Linked DNA regions of Homo sapiens: region 1 is linked to region 2. Evidence: fine-mapped expression QTL. A gene starts in region 2. The other region holds a variant in brackets. All regions are shown on one strand. Distances are between the middles of the regions.

Region 1 (5,386 bases), 35 kb after region 2:
TATTTAATTTATTTGTTTATTTTGAGATGGAATCTCGCTCTATTGCCCAGGCTGGAGTGCAGTGGCGTGAACACAGCTCACTGCAGACTTGAACTCCTGGACTCAAGTGATCCTCCCACCTCAGCATCCCAAAGTGCTGGGATTACAGGCATGAGCCACCGTGCCCAACCTAAATTTTTTTTTTAAGGAAAAAAATAAAATAAAACTTACCATCATTTCTAAATCAAGTGCTAAACATTAAAAAAGACTCTCTAGGCCAAAAACTAAGAATATACTGATGCTTCTCAAATGGTAACAAGGCACACTGGGAATAGTACTGGCCTACATCCGACATTATTTTTTTATAGTTATTTTAAATAGAAAATACACTTAGACGAGTGAAAACTCTGAACACTATGAAAAGGTAGGTACTGAGAACTGTCATTCCTTCCCATCCCCATCTACTCCGTTGCCTCTCACACTCTACAGGTAACCATATTTATTCATTTCTGATTTCTCTTTCCAGTGATTACTTATGCAAATACAAACAAATATGAATATATATTATTCCCCTCCCTCCTTTTTACACAAAAGGAGGCATGCCGTACACACCATTCTGTGCTTTGGTTTGGTCACCTAGCAGTATATGCTGTAGTCTCTTCAGCCTGACATCCTTTTAGGATGTCATCCCTGCCTGTAGAAAAGTGAACATGATTGCTGCTTCTATTTATTCACACAGAGAGTGTGCCCAAGCCTGATACCTGGCTCTGGATTAAATGAACTGTGCTTTGTATTTGCACTTCACAGCTGGCTAGAAAAGTCAACTCCTACAATTGTCAAAGGTCAAGTTCAGAATGTCTAGACACTTTCTTAAATATTCCGACTTGTTTTGAACTTCAAGGAAAAATGAAACTTCAAATATTTTTCTTGAAAGAACACAGAGAAGATGGGCTGGCCACAGAGTTTACTTACATTTTCATGATTCCTTTTTTAAATGCTTCACTCGGGGAATTTTCAGACAATCTTTGTTTTGTATTCCTGCCCTTTGTTATACATGGCTGCAACCCAGAACTGTCAGAGGAGATTAAGTTTATAAAAGAAGAGTTTCTACATTTTTGAAATATTTTGACTAAGTGAAATCATTTTTTTTTCTATCTGCAATGCAATTCAGCTCAGTTCGACAGATATTTACTGGGCCTTGTGCAAACCACTGAGCTTTAATAGATGAATGAGACATTGCTCCTGGCTTCAGGTGAACACAAATAATGTCTCTTTACTGTGGAAACTGCTATGGTACACAAGCAGGCACAGGCTGCTAGAGGAGGACAAAAGAAGAATGCTGAGCTCTGCCTCATTAGAGAAAATGAGCTAAGTCATGAAGACCAGTAAAAGCTGAGCAGAAAAAGAAGGGCAGGAGCAGCAGAAGCAAAGGTCATGAAGTTTCATGAACACGCAAAGGTAACTACTATAGGTGGGAAAGTAGCAAACTGTTTGAGCATCATTAGAGTCCACAGCAGGAGACACAGCTGCAAAAGGGAGAGCCTTGTATGGCCTGCCAGGGAGTTTGGACTTGAATCTAAGCAGTGGTTAAAGAAAGGACCTTGGTCAGGTTTCCTTTTAGAAGGCTTGTCTTGGCTTTGATATGGAGGATGAATACGGGAAGGGATAAATCTATAGGCGGAGAGCCATAGAGGCCAAAAGGAGGCGTATATTAGAAAGGTTTGGGCAGCAGACACTGCAGGGCTTGATGATTGCTGGTCTGTGAGTGGGAGGAGTCCAGGAGGATCCTTGGTCCTGACTCGTGTGACTCAGGGAATGATGGTGCCATTTATTTATTTATTTATTTATTTATTTATTATTTTATATCTTTATTTATTTATTTGAGATGGAGTCTTGCTCTGTCACCCAGGCTGGAGTGCAATGGTGCGATCTCGGCTCACTGCAATCTCTGCCTCCCAGGTTCAAGTGATTCTCCTGCCTCAGCCACCCGAGCAGCTGGGATTACAGGCGCGTGCCACCATGCCCAGCTAATTTTTGTATTTTTAGTAGAGGCGGGGTTTCACCATGTTGACCAGGCTGGTCTCGAACTCCTGACCTCTGGTGATCTGCCTGCCTCAGCCTCCCAATGTGCTGGGATTACAGGCATGAGCCACCACACC[C/T]GGCCGACGGTGCCATTAAATGAATCAGGGAAACACAGCAGAAGGAGGGAGAGGATGATGGGGTCTGTTTGAGTCCTGTTGAATGTGAGGGTAGCAGGCAGATGCAGCTATGAATCTGATGATCAGAGGCGAGTTCTGGTATGAAAAATACGTATTCAAGCATTATACTAGTTTCCTGAGGCTACTGTAACAAATTACCATAAATTTAGTAGCTTAAAACAACATAAATTTACTCTGTTATGATTCTGGAAGTTAGAAGTCTAAAATTAGTCTCACTAAGCTAAAGTCAAGGTGTCAGCAGGGCTGGTTCCTTCTGGAGGCTCTAGGAGAGAATCCTTTTCCTTCTCTGCTCCGAGAGACTGCCTGCATTCCTCAGTTTCTGGCCCTTAATCCATCTTCAAAGCCAGGAGTGCAGCGTCTTGCTTCTGTTGTCGCATAGCTTTCTTCTTCTGTAGTCATGCCTCCCTCTGCCTCCCTTCTATCAGGACACGTGTGATTACATTGCACAGATAATCCAGGATAATATTCCCATCTCAAGATCACAATTGCACATTTTGCTTGATAAGGTATTATTCACAGGTTCCAGAGATTAGGACCTGGACATCTTTGGAAGCATTATTCAACCTACTATGTGTTGATAGCATAAAGTTAGTGAGAGTAGATACAACCGATGAGGTGAATGTGTATGGAGAGAAAAGCATGAGATCAAGACCAGAACACTAGAAACACCAAAGTTAAGAGAGTGAGCATTGGACTAGGCATGGTGGCTCATGCCTGTTACCCCAGCACTTTGGGAGGCCGAGGTGGGTGGATCGCTTGAGCCCAGGAGTTTGAGACCAGCCTGGGCAACACAGTGATACCCTATCTTTACAAAGAAAATAAACAAAATTAGATGGGCATGGTGGCATGTGCCTATAGTCCCAGCTACTTGGAAGGCTGAGGTGGGAGGATCACTTGAACCCCAGTGGTTGAGGCTGCAGTGAGCCAAGATCGTGCCACTACCCTCCAGTCAGGGAAACAGAACAAGACCCTGTCTCAAAAACTAATAATAATTGACTGGGCGCGGTGGCTTACGCCTGTAATCCCAGCACTTTGGAGGCCAAGGTGAGTGGATCACTTGAGGTCAGAAGTTGAAGACCAGCCTAGCCAACATGGTGAAACCCGTCTCTACTAAAAATACAAAAAATTGGCTGGGTGCAGTGGCTCATGCCTGTAATCCCAGCACTTTGGGAGGCCGAGGCGGGCAGATCGCGTGGTCAGGAGATCAAGACCATCCTAGCTAACACGGTGAAACCCTGTCTCTTCTAAAAATAGAAAAAATTAGCTGGGCATGGTGGCGGGCGCCTGTAGTCCCAGCTACTCGGGAGGCTGAGGCAGAAGAATGGCATGAACCAGGGAGGCAGAGGTTGCAGTGAGCCAAGATTGTGCTACTGCACTCCTGCCTCGGTGACAGAGCAAGACTCCGTCTCAAAAAAATAAATAAATAAATAAATAAATAAAATAAAATAAATAAAAATAAAAATACAACAAATTAGCTGGGCCTGGTGGCGCATGCTTGTAATCCCAGCTACTCGGGAGGCTGAGTCAGGAGAATTGCTTGGACCTGGGAGGCGGAGGGTGCAGTGAGCTGAGATCGTGCCATTGTACTCCAGCCTAGGTGACAAGAGCAAAACACCATCTCAAATAATAATAATAATAATAATTTTTTAATGAGTGAGCATTGGAAGAAGGAACCCAAAGAAGATGGAGAAGGAAGGCTGACCAAGGAGAGCACCAGGAAAGAACTGGTGTCATGGAGGGGAAGAATGGAGAGTTACAGGGAACAGTGGCAGGTGACATTTAGTAAACCACTTAGAGGTCCCTGGGCGTCTTTTCCATGGCGGTGTCAGTGAAGTGCAAGGGGTAGAAATCAGATGGCAGCAAATAACAGTCATGGTAATGGGGACAGATAGACAACCTTTTCAACAAGCTGGCTAAGAAGAAAAGAAAAGAGGCATGATGGCAACTAGAAAGAAATGCGGACTCAACAAGGGAAGCGATTTTGTGTTGTTCTGCTTTGTTTCTAAGAAGACGTGAGTTTGGAGCATGTTGGTAGGCTGAAAAGAAAGAGCCCATGGATTGGGAGAGGCTAAAGATTTATGCGGGAAAGACTCACTGAGAGAACAAGTTTCCAAAAGCAGCTGATGGGTAGGAATTCAAAAGCGCAGATCAGTGAAATTTAAAATATGCCTATCCTTTGATGCAGTTTCTCAGAATTTGTCTTCCAAGAAAAAAAAATTTTTTAAACTTATACAAATGTTCACATAAGGAGGAAAAATTGTATAAAATTGTTCAAAGGCAAAGAGATAGATGTACGTACAGGAGTATTCAATGCAGTATCACCAGCAAAAGGGAAAATTTGAAACAATTCACATGTCTATCAGAAAAGATTAGTTAAGCTATGGATTACAGAATCACTTTAAAGTCTTGCGGTGGAAAGATCTCCCTCATAGTATATGATTTCCAGACATAATAAAAGTTGATAACAAAAGTATACAGCCTCTATAGACTCCACAAATAAGTCTGGAAAAAAAAACAGTTCTAGTCTACCTAATATATTTAAAAACTCCTTCAAATTCTTTTTTTTTTTTTTTTTGGAGACAGAGTCGCCCTCCATCCCCCAGGCTGGAGTGCAGTGGCATGATCTCGGCTCACTGCAACCTCTGCCTCCTAGGTTCAAGTGATTCTCCTGCCTCAGCCTCCCAAGTAGCTGGGATTACAGGCACCCACCACCACACCCAACTAATTTTTTGTATTTTTAGTAGAGATCGGGTTTCACCATGATGGCCAAGATGGTCTCAAACTCCTGACCTCAAGGGATCCACCAGCCTTGGCCTCCCAAAGTGCTGGAATTACAGGCGTGAGCCACCATGCCAGCCCAAATTCATTTTTTAAAATAACAGCCTAATAGAAAATATGGGCAAAAGCTAGAAACTGGCATTTCATAGATAACAAACTTGAACAGCAAATATATATATATATTTTTTTTAATAATCAATCTCATTAAGAATGAAAGCTATGTAAATGAGATCTTTCACTTTGTCAATAAGGTTAAGAAAAATTAGAAAGATTAATATGTGTTGTTGGTAAGGCTATAGAGAAAAAAACAGTCCAATGCTGATTGATGGAGCCTAAACATATACAACATTTGTAGAGAGCAATTTGGAAGTGTTTATCAAATTCATTTTATTTGTATAAAAATAAAAATA
Region 2 (5,386 bases):
TACATCTGTGAACTGAAGGCTTTACATGCGAATGATGTGAAAAGAAATCCTGTTTAACATTACTTCATGGATAAATCGAGTATTTGCCCCAAAGAAGCCTTCTCTGCTTGGGCATGCATTATATTCTGGTCCAACCACTCATTCCTCCACATCACTTAGGCTGTCCTAGGTGCAGGCTCTCCTAAGGGGTGGTTGCCCTTTGATTTCCTCCTTGCCTTTTGCACTTTCGCAGCTTATAGATATAGAAGATAACCAATAAAATCTGGTACCAAACAGTCACACATCTAGGCTTTATGCTACCTACCTATGCTGTCCAATACCAGAGTCACATGCCACATGTAGCTATTCCTATTTCTATTAATTAAAACTATTTAATTTTAAATAAATTAAAAATTCAATTTTTCAGTTGCACCAGCCACATTTCAAGTGCTCAAATGAATGTGTGGCTTGTGGCTACAACACTGGTCAGAGCAGATACAAACATTTCCATCTTCTCAGAAATTTCTGAGGAATAATGCCACAATAAACCTTGTCAATCATAGAAGGAATTCTGTTAACCTTCTCATCATGTCCATATCCGCATGAGAATGTGAGATCGCTGAAAGCAAGAATGAGATTTTCTCATCTCTGAACCCCAGCTCCTAGTCCAGGGCCCTGCAGGAAAGGCCACTCACAAAATAACTGCTAGATGATATGAATGTTTCCTCTTTGCTCCCAAAAATGTGCCAACCTTTGTCGCAACACTTTACCATACTTTTCCCTCAAAAAAAACTTTTATTAGTTTTTATTTATTTAAAAAGTAATACAGAATACTGAAAGAAGATTTAAAAATCCACATGTAATACTCCCACCTACAGAATGCCACTCTTAACATTTTGGAGTATTTACATTCATTTATTTACAAACAGATTTTTTGTCATTTGTTGAGGCATATTTTGCATATGGTAAAATTCACCCTTTTAAGGTGATGTGTGTATGACGTATGATGAATGTAACAACCACTACAATCAAGATACAAATTATTTCCATCACCCTCAAAAAGTCACCTCCTCACCTTTGTAATTAAGCCACTCTCCCCAACCGCTCTCCAGCAATCACTGATCCAATTTCTGTTCCTAGGGTTTCAACTGTTCAAGAATGTCATGTACATGGAATTATATAGGAAGTAGCTTTTTTTAGTCTGGGTTCTTCCATTTAACGTGTTGCTTTTGAGATTCATCCATGTTTCCCTTTTTATTGCTGAGTTATATTCTATGATATAGATACACCACAATCTGTTTACCCATTCTACAGTTGAACTTCGGAGTTGTTTCTAACTTTTGGCAATCCTGATAGAGCTGTTATAAACATTTGCACATAGGGTTTTGTGTGTACATATGTTTTCATCACTCTTGGGAGAATTCCTAGCAATTGGATTGTTAGTCATATATAGTAAGTGTATGTTGAATTTTATAAGAAACTGTCAAACTGACTTCCAGAACACCTTTGCTTTTTTGCGTTTCCCCCAGCAATGTATGAGAGTTTCAGTTGCTCTGCGTCTTCACCAGCATTTTGTATTTTCCTTTTTTTTCTTGTCTTGAGCCATCCTAATACATATGTAGTGGTATTTTATTGTGGCTTTAATTTGCATTTCCCTAATGACTAATGATGTCGAGCATCTTTTTGTGTGATTATGTGTTGTCAATATCCTTACTTTGTAATGTTTTATTTGAATCTTTTGCCCATTTTTAATTGGGTTGTCTGCTTTCTTATTATTGAGTTGTAAGAATTCTTTATACATTCTAAATGTCGGTACTTCATCAGAAATGCATTTTACAGATATTTTCTCCCAGTTTGTAGCTTGTTTTTATTTTCTTAACAGGGTTTTTCGAAGAGCAGACAACTGCTCTTCAAGTTGTTTTTTAACTGTACTGAAGAACAAAGAAATTTTTATAAATATCTGCCACATGCTAAACTTTTATTGGCGCTGGAATTACAATAATGGCTAAGCTTAAAGTTGTATTTTTCCTTTTTAGCAAAATTGGCATTGATTGGTTTCTTGTCTACTTTTTCACTATCTTATCGTTAATATTTCTACATCATTAAATATTATTTGAAAACATGATTGTAAGGTATACTCTCACAGTGATTTCTTGATTCATCTTAACTATCCCTCTGTATTTGGAGATGTTTATCTTGATTCCCATCAATATTTTAAAAAGAAAAGAAGCATATGATTCCCATCCTTGCGCAGAAATCTCTGTATACATTTCCAATTATTTTCTTAGTATAAATGCTTATAATTGCAAAAACTGGGACAGAGGCACAGGACTTTGCTCTATACCTGTCTCTTTAGAAAGACTACAGATGTCCTGAAGCAAAGAGCTTGTCTTGGCCCCCTTGTCATGCCAGAATATGACAAAAGCCTGTTACATTGCAGGTGCACTATACACACTTGAGGGATCAACGGTTGGAGAGAAAAAGAATTCCACTGAACTCCATCCTCTCCCTTTCCTCCTGTGGAAAAAAAAGAAAGAAAAGAATATCCTGTCTCCTGCAGACATCTACCTTGCCTTCCCAGATGAAGGGAAGAAGAAAGTCTTCTTCTAAGAGAAAACTTGCCAAGGAGATGCAGGTTTCCCAGAGAGCTGGATGACAAGCCCTGTTGCTGCTCAGCAATGCCCTTAAGGGGCCCTGCCCCCTGCCTTTATAAAGCCGGTGCGGTGGTGGGGCAGCCACAGCTGGCATTCAGCCTCCAGAGCACCAGCACTGGCACTGGCACTGGCACACGCTATGGCAAATGAAGTGCAAGACCTGCTCTCCCCTCGGAAAGGGGGACATCCTCCTGCAGGTAGGCTGCCACCTGCCCTCAGTCCTGCAGGCTGTTGCTGCTCCCCTCTTCCACCAATGCCTTCCATGGAGCACCCCGACAGACGGAAGCTTCTCTGTCTACCCAGTATGACTTTAACTCCATGCAGCCTGACTTCCTCTTATGTCTTTGATCCTTCTTAGCTTGTATGTAAATCCACCCGGGGATTTGTCAGACCCCCAGTGAGTTAAAACCTAATTACCTACGGCAGTGTATGGATTTGGGGCTTGTGGAAAGGCATAGGTAGAGAGGTTGCACCTTTCCTCCCTCGAGGCAGCATTCCTTTCACGGGGCCCTGGCTGTAGATTAGCAGTGACACATCTACACCAGGAAGATGATTTGCTACCATGGAAACCTTTCTCTTTAGAGGTTCCAGCTGTAAGACTCAGTCTCCCCAAGATGCCTGTGCATCATGTGACTTCCTACCCAGGCAAAGCAGCTTCTGCACAGAGGACAACAATCACATTTCTTTCTCCCTCCTCAGGCTTTGGGGATGTATTTACCTGTCAACAAGCTGAGAAGTACTTTTAAATAAAGACACAGGACTTGAGGAGGCTGACTGGAAAAAGTAGCTGTCAAGGTGTTTGCAAAGCATCCATAGTTGTCTTTTTTTTTAATTTATGCTATCTATATTGACTCTCTGGAATATGGAAATTAGTTTTATTGTACTTAACCATATGTTCATATAGATTGGCTGAGGTGTACAGGCCTATTTTTAGTCAGTTTTATATTCTTCCAACTGCCTTCCTTCTTTTTTACTGAAGAAAGAACTCAAAAGCTTGACTGCTTTGTTCTTGCCTTTCTCCATTTACAAAAACATATTTACTGTCTAATTCTCTGGCACCTCTAGGCCAAGGTTATTTCAATAATCTTTGCTGCAGAGGGTGATGGCGGGTATTGTCTTCACAGAGAGTCAAAATGTAACATTGTTTTGGTGGCTTTCCGGCGGGTAGCCTGGCCAAAAAGAGTCCAGATTTTACTACTCATTCTGAGTTTCCAGCTCTAGACATCTTGGTCTGATCTCCTCTGGTAGATTACTGATGTTTTATATTTGTAATCAAATTTAGCAATATTTAACATTACCTATATTTAAAGTTAATTATGCTAGCTAATAGTCAGGAAGTATATATGCAAATCATTGGAAGACAGGCTCCTTACATAGACAAAGACAAAAGAAAAAAGAACTCCATTCTCATTATGTTGTTTCCACTCCAACCCTTCATAAAATGGCTAAGATGAAACCTGTTTTGCTAAACTACATTTATGCACAAAGAACACAGACATAAACTTAACCAAATGAAAGTTCGAATGAAACCACCGGGAACTTTCTGTCCCCACCACTAATGATTGCTAATTACTCTGTGTACATAGCACACCATGACTCCATCAAGCATGTCACAATGCCTCTGGCATGACAATTAATTATTATGAACTGTGACACTACAGATAAGAGGTTTTGGATAATTAGAATGGAGATGAAGGCAGACTTTTGCCTCCCCACTGAGCACAAGGGAACAAAGAAGTGTCATCCTTCAGCCTGTCTTGCCACTAATTTTAAGTCTGAATCTGTTTGTGGTGGTGCAAAATTTTATTTATGGAACAAAAACAAGTGCCAAAATTCTGTTAATTTTTCACTTGATTTTTATAAGCAAAATACAGATCCCTAAAAGTGGGAAGAAGATACGATTCGGTGGGGAGGGTGGGACATACATAGCCTTTGGAATCAGACAGACCTGGGTTTGAACCTCAACTTCATTTCACATCTTCGAGCCTGAGTTTCCTCATCTCTGAAACAGGATGCAATAAATAACATCTATCTAGTAAGTTTGTTGTAATGATTAAAAGAGATCACCTCTGTAAAGTATCTGGCACCTGAATGTTAGCCCCCTTAAAATGCAGGCCCGGTAGAACACATCACTATCAAAAGAAATTATCCTCCCCAATTTCAAGACATCCTGATGCTGGAGCGGCATTAGACACTACTGCAGTAGTTGGAACAGAAAGAAACTGCAATGGAAAAAATATGTGCCTATCCCATCACAGTTAAAAATGAAATCACTCAGCTGGGTACAGTAGCTCACGCCTGTAATCCCAGCACTTTGGGAGGCCGAGGTGGGTGGATCACCTGAGGTCAGGAGTTCAAGACCAGCCTGGCCAACATGGTGAAACTCCATCTCTATTAAAAATACAAAAATTAGCCGGGCGTGGGGCATGTGCCTGTAATCCCAGCTACTTGGGAGGCTGAGGCAGAAGAATCGCTTGAACCCAGGAGGCAGAGATTGCGGTGAGCAGAGATCACGCCACTGCACTCCAGCCTGGGCAACAAGAGTGAGACCCCGTCTGAAAAAAAAAAAAATCACTTAGAAGTCAGCCTGCTGCATCTCTTTCCTACCTATCTATGGAGCAGTCAATGGTTTCACTTTAATGTATATTAATATAATATATTGCATCTCTGATAGCCCTAGTTATACATTTATGCTGTGAAATGAGACTACATAAAACACAAGGTGGCCTGGGCTCCAGTAAGAAGAACTTGGA

The links. PIP is the estimated chance that this variant, and not a neighbour inherited with it, causes the effect. A credible set is the group of variants that fine-mapping cannot tell apart.
Region 1: its variant is the best candidate, but not a certain one, in a credible set for the expression of DAPL1 in esophagus mucosa (GTEx, PIP 0.79).

Annotation. Positions count from the first base shown.
Region 1 is chr2:158,827,859-158,833,244 of GRCh38, forward strand. It overlaps LOC124907901 (a long non-coding RNA gene), which reads left to right and starts at 210. Exons shown (of 3, transcript XR_007087272.1): 1 at 210-1,437. The variant C/T (reference allele first, on the strand shown) is at 2,139.
Region 2 is chr2:158,792,601-158,797,986 of GRCh38, forward strand. DAPL1 (death associated protein like 1) reads left to right here and starts at 2,717. Exons shown (of 4, transcript NM_001017920.3): 1 at 2,717-2,830. The coding sequence starts at 2,773. RefSeq lists an enhancer at 143-312.